4 linked regions of the Homo sapiens genome follow. The protein of the gene in region 1 interacts with the protein of each later gene in a pairwise test. Each region holds a gene or a part of one and is shown in the gene's direction. Other genes may lie near its edges. The genes, in order: NR1D2, PCSK5, CLOCK and LGALS8.

Region 1 (3,573 bases):
CAGCTGCCTGTGGAGAGATATCCCTTTCCACCTTTTATTGATTGACTTCTCTGTCTGAATTCTTAATTGTTATCCAGAGAATTGTTTTCTTAGTTCTGGTTGCATATCTGGTATAAAGTAACTCTAAATTTACAAAATTTCTTATTTCCTGCTGACAGGTCTGGAAAAAAAATAAATTTACAAAATTTCAGTGTAATTCTAAAATCAGGAAAGGAAAAATCCGGGTCAGCGAGGTATTTTTGTCAGTGCCATAAGTTGTATTTAAAAGAAAATTATGGCTGGGTGTGGTGGCTCACACCTGTAATCCCAATATTTTTGGAGGCTGAGTGGGGCGGAGTCCAGGAGTTCAAGACCAGCCTGGGCAACATGGCAAAACCCCATCTCTACTAAAAATACAAAAATTAGCTGGGTGTGGTGGTGCATGCCTGTAGTAGTCCCAGCTACTTGGGAGGCTGAGGCATGAGAATCACATGAACCTGGGAAGTGTGGAGGTTGCAATGAGCTGAGATCACGCCACTGCGTTCCAGCCTGGGCGACAGAGGGAGACTCTATCTTTAAAACAAAACAAAGCAAAACAAAAAAAAAACACCGTAAGAAAATTATGATTGTGATTACTTTTGATTTGAAAATATTTTTCTTTTACATTATGAAAGTAGATGTGTATCTTCTAAAAGCTCTTACACGTTGAATGAAATAAAATATCTAATTGGAAAGAAAACAGACTCGGTGTTTCCTCCTACTTTTTACTTCGTGTCCTTTTGTGTCCTAGAATTTAGTGGCATGGTTCTACTGTGTAAAGTCTGTGGGGATGTGGCGTCAGGATTCCACTATGGAGTTCATGCTTGCGAAGGCTGTAAGGTAAAGCATGCTTTTGTTTCTTTAAGCTACTGATTCTGGGATTTAAGAAGTTGGGTTTAGATTTACCCATTTGTGCAATTGATAGTCTGAGAGACAGTGAGAAGTCAGCTGCTCTTTTTAAGTTTTAAGCATTTTATGTAGTGTATAAGCATAACTTGTTTTGAATAATATTCTTAATTCAGTGAAAGTATTTCTTTTTTCTTTAAGATTTTGAACAAAGTAAATTTGCTATCTCAATTAAACATACTTATTGTGTTAAACCAAGTGCACCAAATGCTCATTCATTAATGTGTCAAGCACAGTTCTAGGTGGTAGTGAAATAACAAGGAACAAAACAGAGAAGGCACTACTTCTGCCTTGTGGGAACTTAGTTTAAACCAAACTTTGAATTAGGATCTCATCATATACTTTGACTTAATGACACGTCAGGTACTGGGAGCTGGGAATAATTGCTACATACTTGAAAAAAATGTGGTATCTTAAAAAATAATGCCAAGTGAGTAAAATAATCCTGAATATAAGTTGAGCCCTTGGGAAAGCTAGTTTATTTGTAAGTTTAGTTGACTATTTTCTAGTTATTGCTATTAGAGTATTGGTCAAATAATTCCAAGTGAGATGGTCTCTACCTCCCTACCTATATACAGGGAATCTTTCTCTCTTTTTAAAAAACTTGGCACAATCTTTTCTCCTGAGTATCAAAAATTAACGTGATGAAGACACATGTTCTTGCTGTTCTCTGACTTGAGGCCACAAGCAAGAATCTAGTTTGGCGAGATATGATGGGTAAACAAGATAATGAATATACATGATGGGAGAGGAAATATTTTCAAGTGTGGCTCTGAATGAATTGCGAGTTTGCCAGTTTTTTTTTTTTTAGATGGAGTTTTGCTCTTATTTCCCAGGCTGAAGTGCAGTGGTGTGATCTTGGTTCACTGCAACCTCTGCCTCCTGGGTTCAAGTGATTCTCCTGTCTCAGCCTCCCGAGTAGCTGGGATTACAGGCACACGCCACCACTCCAGGCTAATTTTTGTATTTTTAGTAGATTCGGGGTTTCATCACATTGGCCAGGCTGGTCTTGAACTCCTAACCTCAGGTGATCTGCCCGCCTCGGCTTCGCAAAGTGCTGGGATTACAGGCGTGAGCCACGCGCCCTGCCAAGTTTGCTAACTTTTAATGGCCGGGTAACTTTGTAAGACAAGTCAGTATTTTTTATAGATGTAGCATTTTTTTCATTGTTTAAAAAAGATTCTCCTTCTCTATATATCTTTTTTTTTTTTTTTTTTTTTTTTTACAAAAATGTGAAGTAATAGGCCAGGTGCGGTGGCTCACGCCTGTAATCCCAGCACTTTGGGAGGCCGAGGCGGGCGGATCACGAGGTCAGGAGATCGAGACCATCCTGGCTAACATAGTGAAACCCTGTCTCTACTAAAAATACAAAAAAAAAAAAATTAGCCGGACGTAGTGGTGGGCGCCTGTAGTCCCAGCTACTCGGGAGGCTGAGGCAGGAGAATGGCGTGAACCCGGGAGGCGGAGCTTGCAGTGAGCTGAGATTGCACCACTGCACTCCAAGCCTGGGCGACAGAGCCAGATTCCGTCTCAAAAAAAAAAAAAGTGAAGTAATATTGGGGAAGGCATTATTCTTACTTTATAGCTAGAAAATAAAAGCACAAACTGAATGAGCTGATTGCATATTCTTGATAAATACACATCTGTGCAGTACTCTTAAAATGTCTAGTTCAGCTCTTGTAGTATCTAAGTCAAGTGTATAGTATCACAATAATAAAATATAAAAATGTTGTGTCCCATGACTACTTAGTATAGATTCGGGAAATGTGTTTAGTTGTCATATAAAAGGAAAATGCAGTTTAAAATAATTTCAGTAATTGCATTCTTGAGTTTTCTGTCCTCCCTGGTACCATGAAACTGGAGATCTTTGGAGACCTATCACAGAACATGTACTGGAATTGTTTGTGTGTGGAGTAAAGGCAGCTGTTTGTAGCCATCTAGTTGGGAACTGTCTTTCCTTGGATAGTTAGCTACTCTGTTGGTGTGTGGTGTAACACTTACCTGTTGCTGGCACGTAGTCAGTGATTTCTGTCATGTATAAGTAGGCCTTGCCATTGTCAGCAGGTAATGATCCTGGAAAGACCAACTTCTGTTAATGTAATCCACAATCTAGTGAGGGGATTATAGCTATCAAACATATTTCTCAGTCCACTTTTTAAGAAGTAGTCATTTAGGCTGGGTGCAGTGGCTCAGGCCTGTAATTCTAGCTCTTTGGGAGGCTGAAGCTGTAGGATTGCTTGAGGTGGAGTGTGAGACCCACCTGGGCAACATAGGGAGACCCTACCTCTACAAAAAATAAAAAAGCTGGATGTGGTAGCACATGTCTGTAGTCCCAGCTCTTGGGAGGCTGAGGCAGAAGGATTGCTTGAGCCCGGGAGTTCGAAGTTGCGGTGAGCTATTATTACGTCATTGTACTCCAGCCTGGGTGACAGAGCAAGACCCTGTCTCTTTAAAAAAAAAAAAAAAAAAAAAAAGCCTGGACATGGTGGCTCGTGCCTGTAATCCTAGCACTTTGGGAGGCCAAGGTGGGCGGATCAGTTGAGGTCAGGAGTTCAAAACCAGCCTGGCCAACATGGTGAAACCCTGTCTCTACTAAAAATACAAAAAATTAGCCAGGTATGGTGGCACGTGCCTGTAATCCCAGCTACT
Region 2 (3,573 bases), on another chromosome or scaffold:
GCTATTTATAAATTAGATACTTTTTTTGGACATCGTGGTAGACTGAATAATGGCCCCCCTGAAGATGACACATCCTGATCCCCAGATCCTGTAAATGTATTACTCTACTTGGTAAAGGACTTTGGGGCAGTGATTTAGTTGAGGATCTCGGCATAGAGAGATTATCCTGCATTATCCACGTAGACCCAATGCCATCACAAGGGTCTGATAAGAGAGATGCCGGGGGTGGGCCAGGCATGGTGGCTCACGCCTGTAATCCCAGCACTTTGGGAGGCCGAGGTGGGCGGATCACAAGGTCAGGAGATCGAGACCATCCTGGCTAAAACGGTGAAACCCCGTCTCTACTAAAAATACAAAAAATTAGCTGGGTGTGGTGGCAGGTGCCTGTAGTCCCAGCTACTCGGGAGGCTTAGGCAGGAGAATGGTGTGAACCCGGAAGGTGGAGCTTGCAGTGAGCCAAGATTGTGCCACTGCACTCCAGCCTGGGCGACAGAGTGAGACTCCATCTCAAAAAAAAAAAAAAAGAGAGATGCCAGGGGATCAGAGTCAGTAATAGAAGGTGATGTGATCAGAAGCAGAGGGACAGAGAGAAGCTACTGCACTGCTGCCTTTGAAGACAGAGGAAGGGGCCATGAGCCAAGGCATGCAGGTGGACTCTAGCAAGTGGAAAAGGAAAGGAAACAGATTCCCTCCTAGAGCCTCTAAAAGGAACAGAGCCCTGTGGATCTATTTTGGACTTCTGACCTCCAGAACAGTAAGATAATAAATTGTTGTTTCAAGGCCCCAAGTTGGGGATACTTCATAGGAACAGCAATAAGAGACTAATACGGCGGTGTTTTTCCTTCAGGAAGCTGGGGCTTCCCCCTAGTTAACCAGATACATGAGCTGGACAATGAGCCATTGCCAACATCCACAGGCGCCGGACTGTAGTTTCTGTTCTACCCACCACAGCTAATCCACTGAGAAATTTGGGTGGGACACAGATGAGATTTGGATCTCTGATGAGATGAGATGGGATCACTGATGAGATTTGGGTGGGACACAGAGCCAAACCATATCACTGACTTCTGTTTTCCTTGTATTCCTCATGGCCTTAGGGCAATTCTGTTTCTTGGACACTAATCTTATTTCCCAAACATATCCATCAGCTCACAGGATCATCCCATTCCTCCTGCAGCCCTCTCCTCCCTCCCGCCATGGTACACAAGAGGGAAAATACAGGGGAGACATGTGTCATGCTCGATGTCCAAATAGACATTTTTTCTCCCATGACAGACACAACCTGTGTGAAGGACTGCCCAGAGGGCTATTATGCCGATGAGGACAGCAACCGGTGTGCCCACTGCCACAGCTCTTGCAGGACATGTGAAGGGAGACACAGCAGGCAGTGCCACTCCTGCCGACCGGGCTGGTTCCAGCTAGGAAAAGAGTGCCTGCTCCAGTGCAGGGAAGGGTAAGTGCTCAATACATTTTCCCCCATGTAATTTCACAGCCACAGCAGATATCAACCCATTTTACAAATGAGGAAACTAAGATTCAGAACACTTATAAAACCAGGTTGAAGTCTCAGTGCTAGTAAGGAGCAAAGATGAACCAATTCACAGTAACAGAAGAGAAACAGGAGAGGCAGAGTGACCGAGTGAGTTAACACAAAGGGTCAGATTGTCAAGCCGGACTCACCTGAGCAATTGATCTTCCTCAACGACAGTCCTTACTGAAAATTCAAAGCATATTGGCAGCTGGGCACTGTGGCTCATGCCTGTAATCCCAACTACGTGGGAGGTTGAGGCTGGAGGATCACTTAAGGCAGGAGTTTGAACCAGTATGGGCAACATCTTGAGACCCCATCTGTAAAATATTAAAATAAGATTAGCTGGGCATGGTGCCATCAGGCTATAGTCCCAGCTTCTATAGAAGCTGAGGCAGGGGATGATCACTTGAACCCAGGAGTTGGAGGCTGCAGTAAGCTATGATTGCACCACTGCACTCCAGCCTCAGTGACAGAGCAAGACCTTGTTTCTAAAAATTAAAACAATTTGGCAAAGGGTCTCAGCAATCACAAGGCAGAAGCAAAGCATCCTTTCCTCAGAGAAGCCCAAGATCATTAATGGAGGTTCTTTTTCTTCACCTTCAGGACTTGTTCTGATTCAGATTTAAAATTCAGGGTCTCACATTCTCCCAACCTGCTTATGTGAGGAGAGCAGTGAGTGTGGAACATTGATTTACAAAGGAAATAGTTCCATTAACATCTCCATTTATTCCCCATTAATTCCCCAACCTGTCATGTCACCTATAAATCCACAAATTACAGGTTTTGTTATCATAAACAACGTAGACACACGCACTTGATGTATCCTTCTAAAAGCATTTCATGGATAAGGACTCTATTATTTTTCTGCTAGGAAGAACTGTTAGTGTTATCAGAAGGTCTGATTGCCAGCATATCCTTTTTCTCCCCCAGGCATTCCCAGTAAAGAGTAAAAGATTGATGATAGGCCTGTTGCTGACTCTTTCTACCCAATCAATAACCTAGAGCACTGGGAGTTTCCAGACCCAAATCAAGGGCTGTAACCTTAGACCTTCCTCAAATGCTTTCACCCAAATTGACACATCTCTTCGGTCCTATAGCAGTTACTGCTTGTTTCATTCATTTTAGTGCTATATGCTGCCTTGCATTTTGATTTATCTCATTCATTCACTTATTTATTTAACACATTTCATGATGAGTACTTTGTATGTATAAATAAGATGAGTAAAAGAAAGACTGACTGTGTTTGTTTTCACGCGGCTGATAAAGACATACCCAAAGACTGGGCAATTTACAAACTAAAGAGGTTTAATTCGACTTACAGTTCCATGTGGATGGGGAGGCCTCACAATCATGGCAGAAGGCAAGTAGGAGCAAGTCACATCTTATGTGGATAGCGGCAGGCAAAGAGAGAGAATGAGAGCCAGGCGAAACGGGTTTCTCCTTATCAAACCGTCAGATCTCGTAAGACTTATTCACAACAGCAAGAACAGCATGGGGGAAACCGCCCCTACAATCCAACCATCTCCCACAGGGTCCCTCCCACAGCACATGGGAATTATGGGAGTACAATTCAAGATGAGATTTGGGTGAGACACAGAACCAAACCATATCACTGACTTTAAGAGTTTATTCTTATTTTTATATGCCTCTTCCCAAGAAAATTATAAACTCATGGAAGAAAAACACCTCTTACGTCTTACATTTGCTTCTACAACACTCAGCACAGAGCCACACATTGGCAGCTCTTGAAAAACACCAGCCAGGCTGGGCAGGGTGGCTCACGCCTATAATCCCAGCACTTTGGGAGGCCGAGGTGGGTGGGAGGTGAGGTTAGGAGTTTGAGACCAGCCTGGCCAACAGGGTGAAACCCCATCTCTACTAAAAATACAAAAACTAGCCAGGCATGGTGGCACGTGCCTGTCATCCCAGCTACTTGGGAGGCTGAGGGAGGAGAATTGCTTGAACCCAGGAGGCCAAGGTTGCAGTGAGCCAAGATCACACCACTGCACTCCAACCTGGAGCAAGATTCTGTCTCAGAAAAG
Region 3 (2,327 bases), on another chromosome or scaffold:
CCCCAACACAGTCAAAGGCCAGTATGACAGAACCAATGGCACATGATGCCTCTATTTTGCCCATTTGGGGAAATGTTAGTAAAAGAAATAGCATCTTTTAATGGCTGTCATTATCATATCCATATTAAAATCCATTTAAAGTTCTTAAATTTGGCGGAATAATGTATACAGGCTGTAAACTTCTACAAAAAATGTTTGCTGTCTTTAATATGGTGTCAAGTTACTTGGTCCTTTGAAAACAAAACAAAACTTCCATACACAGCACTGCCCAGTAAAGCAGTGTTGGAATATTGGAAACCTAGACATTTGAGGATCCTTCTTGCTCACAAGCATTGGAACAGAATCCTCCACTTTAGGACTCAGAGAAGCTATGGAGTCCCACAGGCTAGGTATAGCACACAACTTAGAGAACGGTAGTTAAAGCACGTCAACCACAATTGAATTTAATGATCTAAAAAATATTTCTTAACTCTGAGGGTTAAACTGAAGATACGTTTTCAAATAAAAGCTTTTAAATTTCTTAGGAAACAAACTGTGACATCGCTTTTAAAAATGACATTCAAATGTTTATAATGTGTGTTTTTGAGTTGGCTTGGACTAGTGCAAGTTCACTGCTGGCAATGGTTATGCCAGTAGTTAAGTTAAAATAAGTTGTTACCTTCAGATTGATGTCTTGTATAACCAGACAATCATCTTCAAGCAAAAAAATTGGCCAGGAAATGTCTTTTTAAAAAAAAAAAAAAAAAAAAAGATGTGTCAGCCAGAACAGTTACCATTCAGACCATACTGGAATGATTTTGAAATCTTTACTATGGTTTAAGTTGGGGAAGGCCTCAGTATGGCATTTTCATATTCACTCTATGTAAAGATTGAAGCCCAAAGATGAGTTAAATTCAGTGCTGTATTGAAACCAGTCAGTGCAAAAAAAAAAAAAAAGTTTTACCTTTGTAAATTTTTCATTGTTAACATCAGTTGGTAGTTGTTAAAACATGCACCAAATTCTTTATAATGTTCTGTGTGGTTCTCAATGTGATATTCTTGACATTGCTGTCCTTACTGCTTGGTTCTTGGTTTTAAATTAAAAAGTAGATGTAGCTCATCATTTTTACTTCCAAAACGGTGGAGCTAAAAACGGCTAATTGATCTTGAGATAAGAATACCCTTTACTAAGGCAAAGATTTAATTGAAATCCAAAATGATTTATAGAAACGAAAGGCATTTTCCATTTGTTGTCTTCTGCCGAAATTCTGAATTGCATACACACATGAAGGATAATGAATGGTTTCAACGGTGCTATATTAGGTTCTCTGATTTTCATGACCTATGTATGTTTGGAAATACAATATTGTATAAAATGTGGATCGTTTTGTTACCGATTTAATATTGCCATTTTAATTTGGTGTAACAATTGGTTACACTTGTTTTTCAAAGCTATCCTTTGAGGAGAAAGTCAAAATGTGTTGTTAGCCTACCTCCACTCAGGCCTCTTGCTGTGTAATCATTATTCCAGGTTATGATGTGCATAGCTTTTAAAACTGCGTGTACTATTATTCTGCTCTTTCCCATACTCTTGTCATGTATTCAGAACCTAAACTTATAGCAAAAGAGCCAAGCAGTAGCAGTTTTTGTAAATGTAAAAATAATTAGATCCAGACTTTGTTTCCTTCAATTTTAAAAATAAAAAATACCTCAGTGCTATGTTTTTCAGTTATCACCTGCATTTCTCAAAAAATAACACCTGCTTCATGTGGCACATAACTTGTAAGAATCACATTTTGGATTTTAAAGAAAGACTATTAAATATTTTAAGATCACTATCAATGACATTTCCCTTTCTTTTATTCAACAATGGAGCCTATTGCAGTAGCGATTTTTACCTTATAGCTTAGGTCTGACTTACCAAAAATTCTCAGAGGAATTATGTCCTGCTACAAGATTGTGGTGCCTCAGAATGCGATGCTGTTCTTATTCGCATATGAAGCTAGTAATGGGACCAAGCTACCTGAACTGAGGTTACACGATGATGGTGCCAGCTACTCCCTACGAGGAATTGTCTTTTCTGTTGTTATTAGAAAAAACGGTTGGGTGCGGTGGCTCACGCCTGTAATCCTAGCACTTTGGGAGGCTGAGGTGGGTGGATCACCTAAGGTCATGAGTTCAAGACCAGCCTGGCCAACATGGTAAAACCCTGTCTCTACTGAAAATACAAAAAAATTAGCCAGGCGTGGTGGCGGGCACCTATAATCCCTGCAACTTGGGAGGCTGAGGCAGGAGAACTGCTTGAACTCAGGAGGCAGAGGTTGCAGTGAGCCGAGATTGCGCCACTG
Region 4 (3,573 bases), on another chromosome or scaffold:
AATGAGTGTGGGTTGTAATTGCTTAGTAAGTAATTTTGTTTATGTAAACGTACATTTGTTAAATTTTTTTTCTTAGGTAATCCCGTTTGTTGGCACCATTCCTGATCAGCTGGATCCTGGAACTTTGATTGTGATACGTGGGCATGTTCCTAGTGACGCAGACAGGTAAAATCACTGTGCTAAAGGAAGGAGCATGAATAGGCTGTCTTTTTGTGATTGTGGAATGATAACAGAGTAAGGCGGGAGAGACCATTTGATACTTTGAGGCCCAATTAGCTTTCATCAGCAGCCCTGGCCAAGGTGCTGAGGAGATTGGAATGAATGACTAAATAAAGGTTATTGGGATTTATTTCATTGCTGTAAGTCTGATTTCAGTATAAAAAATTAGAACTATCAGCTGGATGTGGTGACTTAAACATACTTTTCCAGCACTTTGGGAGGCCAAGGCAGGAGGATTGTTTGAGGCCAGGAGTTTGAGACCAGCCTGGGCAACATAGTGAGACCCCCCATCTGTAAAAAAAAAAAAAATTTAAAAATTAACTGGCTTGGTGGTGTGCGCCTGTAGTTGTAGCTACTCAGGGGGCTGAGGTAGGAGGATTCCTTGAGCCCAGGAGTTTGAGGTTGCAGTGAGCTGTGATCGAGCCACTGCACTATAGCCTGGGTGACAAAAAAAAAAAAGAAAAAGAAAAAGAATTAGGTATGTCATTAAAGAAAGGAATTGTGGTCAGATGACAGGGACAGTCTAGTTTTAGTCTGACATTCCCACAGCATTACAGATCTAGTTCAGATGGTTTTACTGAATACCTGCTTTGGATACAAGCTGTGGTATCATTAGTGTTGGGCTCAGCTCTGTGTACCTAACACCTGAAGAGCAGTGGTTTAAGATGTGAAAATTAAGTCTCAAGGAGACAGCCCAGGCCTTTTCAGTTAACTCCTTCAAGTCGTTAGAGAAGTAGACTCCTTCGAGCTCACCACTCTGTTATCTTGAGGGTGAGGTAAGGTCCCCTTTCCCGTTTTCCTTGGCAGCCAGATTTCCAGCCCTCACTTCTGTGCTTTGGGTAGCTGGATGGGTGCATGTGGTGTTTGCGGGGAAACAGAGCTGGACAAAAGGCAAGTGCTTGCTGACTTCTAAGGCAGTTTCCAGTAGCCTTCCCTGAGCACTTCACTTCCATCTTACCAGCAGAGCTTTAGCTGCACAGGCAGGCCTAGCTGCGAGGGAGGCTGGGAAAGGTAGGTTTTTATTCTGGGCAGATTCAGACCCAGTTCAAACTCAGGGGCTATTTTACTGAGGAAGACAGAAAAGATTAGACAGTCAGCTCTTTAGGCCTCATAGTGAATGAATGAGGAGGGATTGGTCAGTCCCTTGTCACTGGGCCTGGAGTGTAGTGCCTGCTGGTCCTTTACTGGTGGCTTTCCTTTCTGAGCACTCATGGGGCCCCTGTGTCTTCCCTCATATAGATTCCAGGTGGATCTGCAGAATGGCAGCAGCATGAAACCTCGAGCCGATGTGGCCTTTCATTTCAATCCTCGTTTCAAAAGGGCCGGCTGCATTGTTTGCAATACTTTGATAAATGAAAAATGGGGACGGGAAGAGATCACCTATGACACGCCTTTCAAAAGAGAAAAGTCTTTTGAGATCGTGATTATGGTGCTGAAGGACAAATTCCAGGTAGGTTTTGGAGAGGGACAGGTTGAGTCCTCATTAGTGAGCAGGAGTGCACAGGGGTGCTTTTCACATTTGTGAGCCCAGCCTTATATTTCCTACACCTGAGATATAGTTTGTTTGGCTTTGTAGTTTTTCTCCATAAAAGGACCAGGAAGGCACCTAAATGTGAGGTATGGCACCACTACTCTCCAGCCAGTTGTTGCCATGCAGAAATATGGTCCACTGTGACCAGATCTTTTTATTAGATCCTATTTCTCCTAGCAGGGCTGAGTTCCGAATTGACACAGTATTATGTTCATGATGGGAGGGTAAGTTATAATATAACCGCCACCACCCGAAGAGCTAACAAGGGCAATCCCAGCGAAGAAATCAGAAGGGTTTTGTAAATTCAAGTCTTGCCACAAGACAGTTCCGTAGGATCATGAGATTTTAGACCCAGAGGAGATCCTAGAAATCCTTGATGTCAGTTCCATCTCTGGCTTCATGGAGTGTCTTGTACCTAGCGTGTATGTGTACGGTTGAATTTGGTCCCAGAAGCTTACACCTGCTGGCCCTCTGGCCTGTGGAGCTTGCCCACAGTAGAGGTATGTACCAACGCGAGAGAAGACTCGAATGCCTCTGGCGCAGATCCTTTCTGATCTTCGGGATACTGCTCCTGCCCGAAAGTCTTTCTGAATCTCCCAAACTCCATTCACCTCTCCCTTCTCTGGCCTTTTGAGCCCGTGTCTGTATCATTCTTTTTCACAGTTTTTAACAGTTGTGCTTTGGCTTTACGTGTTTATTTTGCCTCCACAATGGGATTTTAAGCTCCCTGAGTCAGAGACTATATTGTATGCTGCTCGCGTTTTCTGCCTATAACCTAACGTGGTACCTGGCATTTGAGAGGGAGGGAGGAGGAGCCTCGTAGCGTGCCGAGGACCTGCAGAAGCTACTTTCTCGTCATCTTACTGTAGTCTGTTGAGGTAGAGACTGTTCCTACTTCAGAATAAGAAAACCGAATTCAAATATGTTGGGTAACTTGTCCATATTAATTTATTTAGCAAATACAACAGATTTTGAGTGTCTGCCACATGGGTGGTCTCCAGGGACAGTGTTGTGGGGAGCTCGCAGGCAGATCTTTAACCTGGGTTCACAATCTCCAGGGCACCTGTGCCTGGGCTTCCAGGCGACCTTCGAACCCAGATGTCTCACATGTATGCAGAGGCGCACACAAGCACACGCACATATACTTATGACTGCCTGTTTGTCTGGGGAGAGACAGTTCCTGGTGCTTAATCAAATCAGGAACTCAAAAGAAGTTTGGAAGCACTGCTAGTGTTTTGGGTGCTTTCGGTTACCATTTGGTCATGTGTGTGGAGACCTGTGGGAACAGGTATAAAACTGGACGCAAGGAAACATTTAAATTTGGATAATAAGTTAATTTATTAACTGTTTTTTTTTGGTGGCGGGGGGGGCTCTGTCTTCTGTATCTCTCTAGGTGGCTGTAAATGGAAAACATACTCTGCTCTATGGCCACAGGATCGGCCCAGAGAAAATAGACACTCTGGGCATTTATGGCAAAGTGAATATTCACTCAATTGGTTTTAGCTTCAGCTCGGTGAGTGACCTTCCACAGCTTGGGGTCTTTTATGAGGATGGTTTCTGATGAGATGGTAGAAAAAATCTTCAAATAACACTTCTATTGACATAAAAAGGACGTATCTCCCTGACTGTAGTATTAATTTTTTGGAAGTGAACTGTTCACACTAGCAGAAGGCTGTTTATCAGCCAGGGCTTCATTGTCTGTAGGATCTCAAACCTAGTGTGGTTTTAATAAAACACACACAGTTTTTAGCTGGGTAGCAGCTATTTCCTTTGCATGGGCATAAAATGGAGTATTTCTGTAAGACAGGTTCCTAGGCTGGGAG

The links.
Region 2: the proteins of NR1D2 (region 1) and PCSK5 interact in a two-hybrid assay, tested with the Homo sapiens proteins (one large-scale study listed by BioGRID).
Region 3: the proteins of NR1D2 (region 1) and CLOCK interact in a two-hybrid assay, tested with the Homo sapiens proteins (one study listed by BioGRID).
Region 4: the proteins of NR1D2 (region 1) and LGALS8 interact in a two-hybrid assay, tested with the Homo sapiens proteins (one large-scale study listed by BioGRID).

Annotation. Positions count from the first base shown.
Region 1 is NC_000003.12:23,955,268-23,958,840, forward strand, and holds part of NR1D2 (nuclear receptor subfamily 1 group D member 2), read left to right. Parts: intron 1-769; coding exon 770-858; intron 859-3,573. UniProt on the Homo sapiens protein: Transcriptional repressor which coordinates circadian rhythm and metabolic pathways in a heme-dependent manner.
Region 2 is NC_000009.12:76,331,158-76,334,730, forward strand, and holds part of PCSK5 (proprotein convertase subtilisin/kexin type 5 isoform 3 precursor), read left to right. Parts: exon of another isoform or gene 1-396; intron 397-1,275; coding exon 1,276-1,453; intron 1,454-3,573. UniProt on the Homo sapiens protein: Serine endoprotease that processes various proproteins by cleavage at paired basic amino acids, recognizing the RXXX[KR]R consensus motif. Likely functions in the constitutive and regulated secretory pathways.
Region 3 is NC_000004.12:55,427,397-55,429,723, reverse strand, and holds the end of CLOCK (circadian locomoter output cycles protein kaput), read left to right. Parts: 3' UTR 1-1,821; downstream 1,822-2,327. UniProt on the Homo sapiens protein: Transcriptional activator which forms a core component of the circadian clock.
Region 4 is NC_000001.11:236,537,421-236,540,993, forward strand, and holds part of LGALS8 (galectin-8), read left to right. Parts: intron 1-76; coding exon 77-165; intron 166-1,458; coding exon 1,459-1,669; intron 1,670-3,143; coding exon 3,144-3,263; intron 3,264-3,573.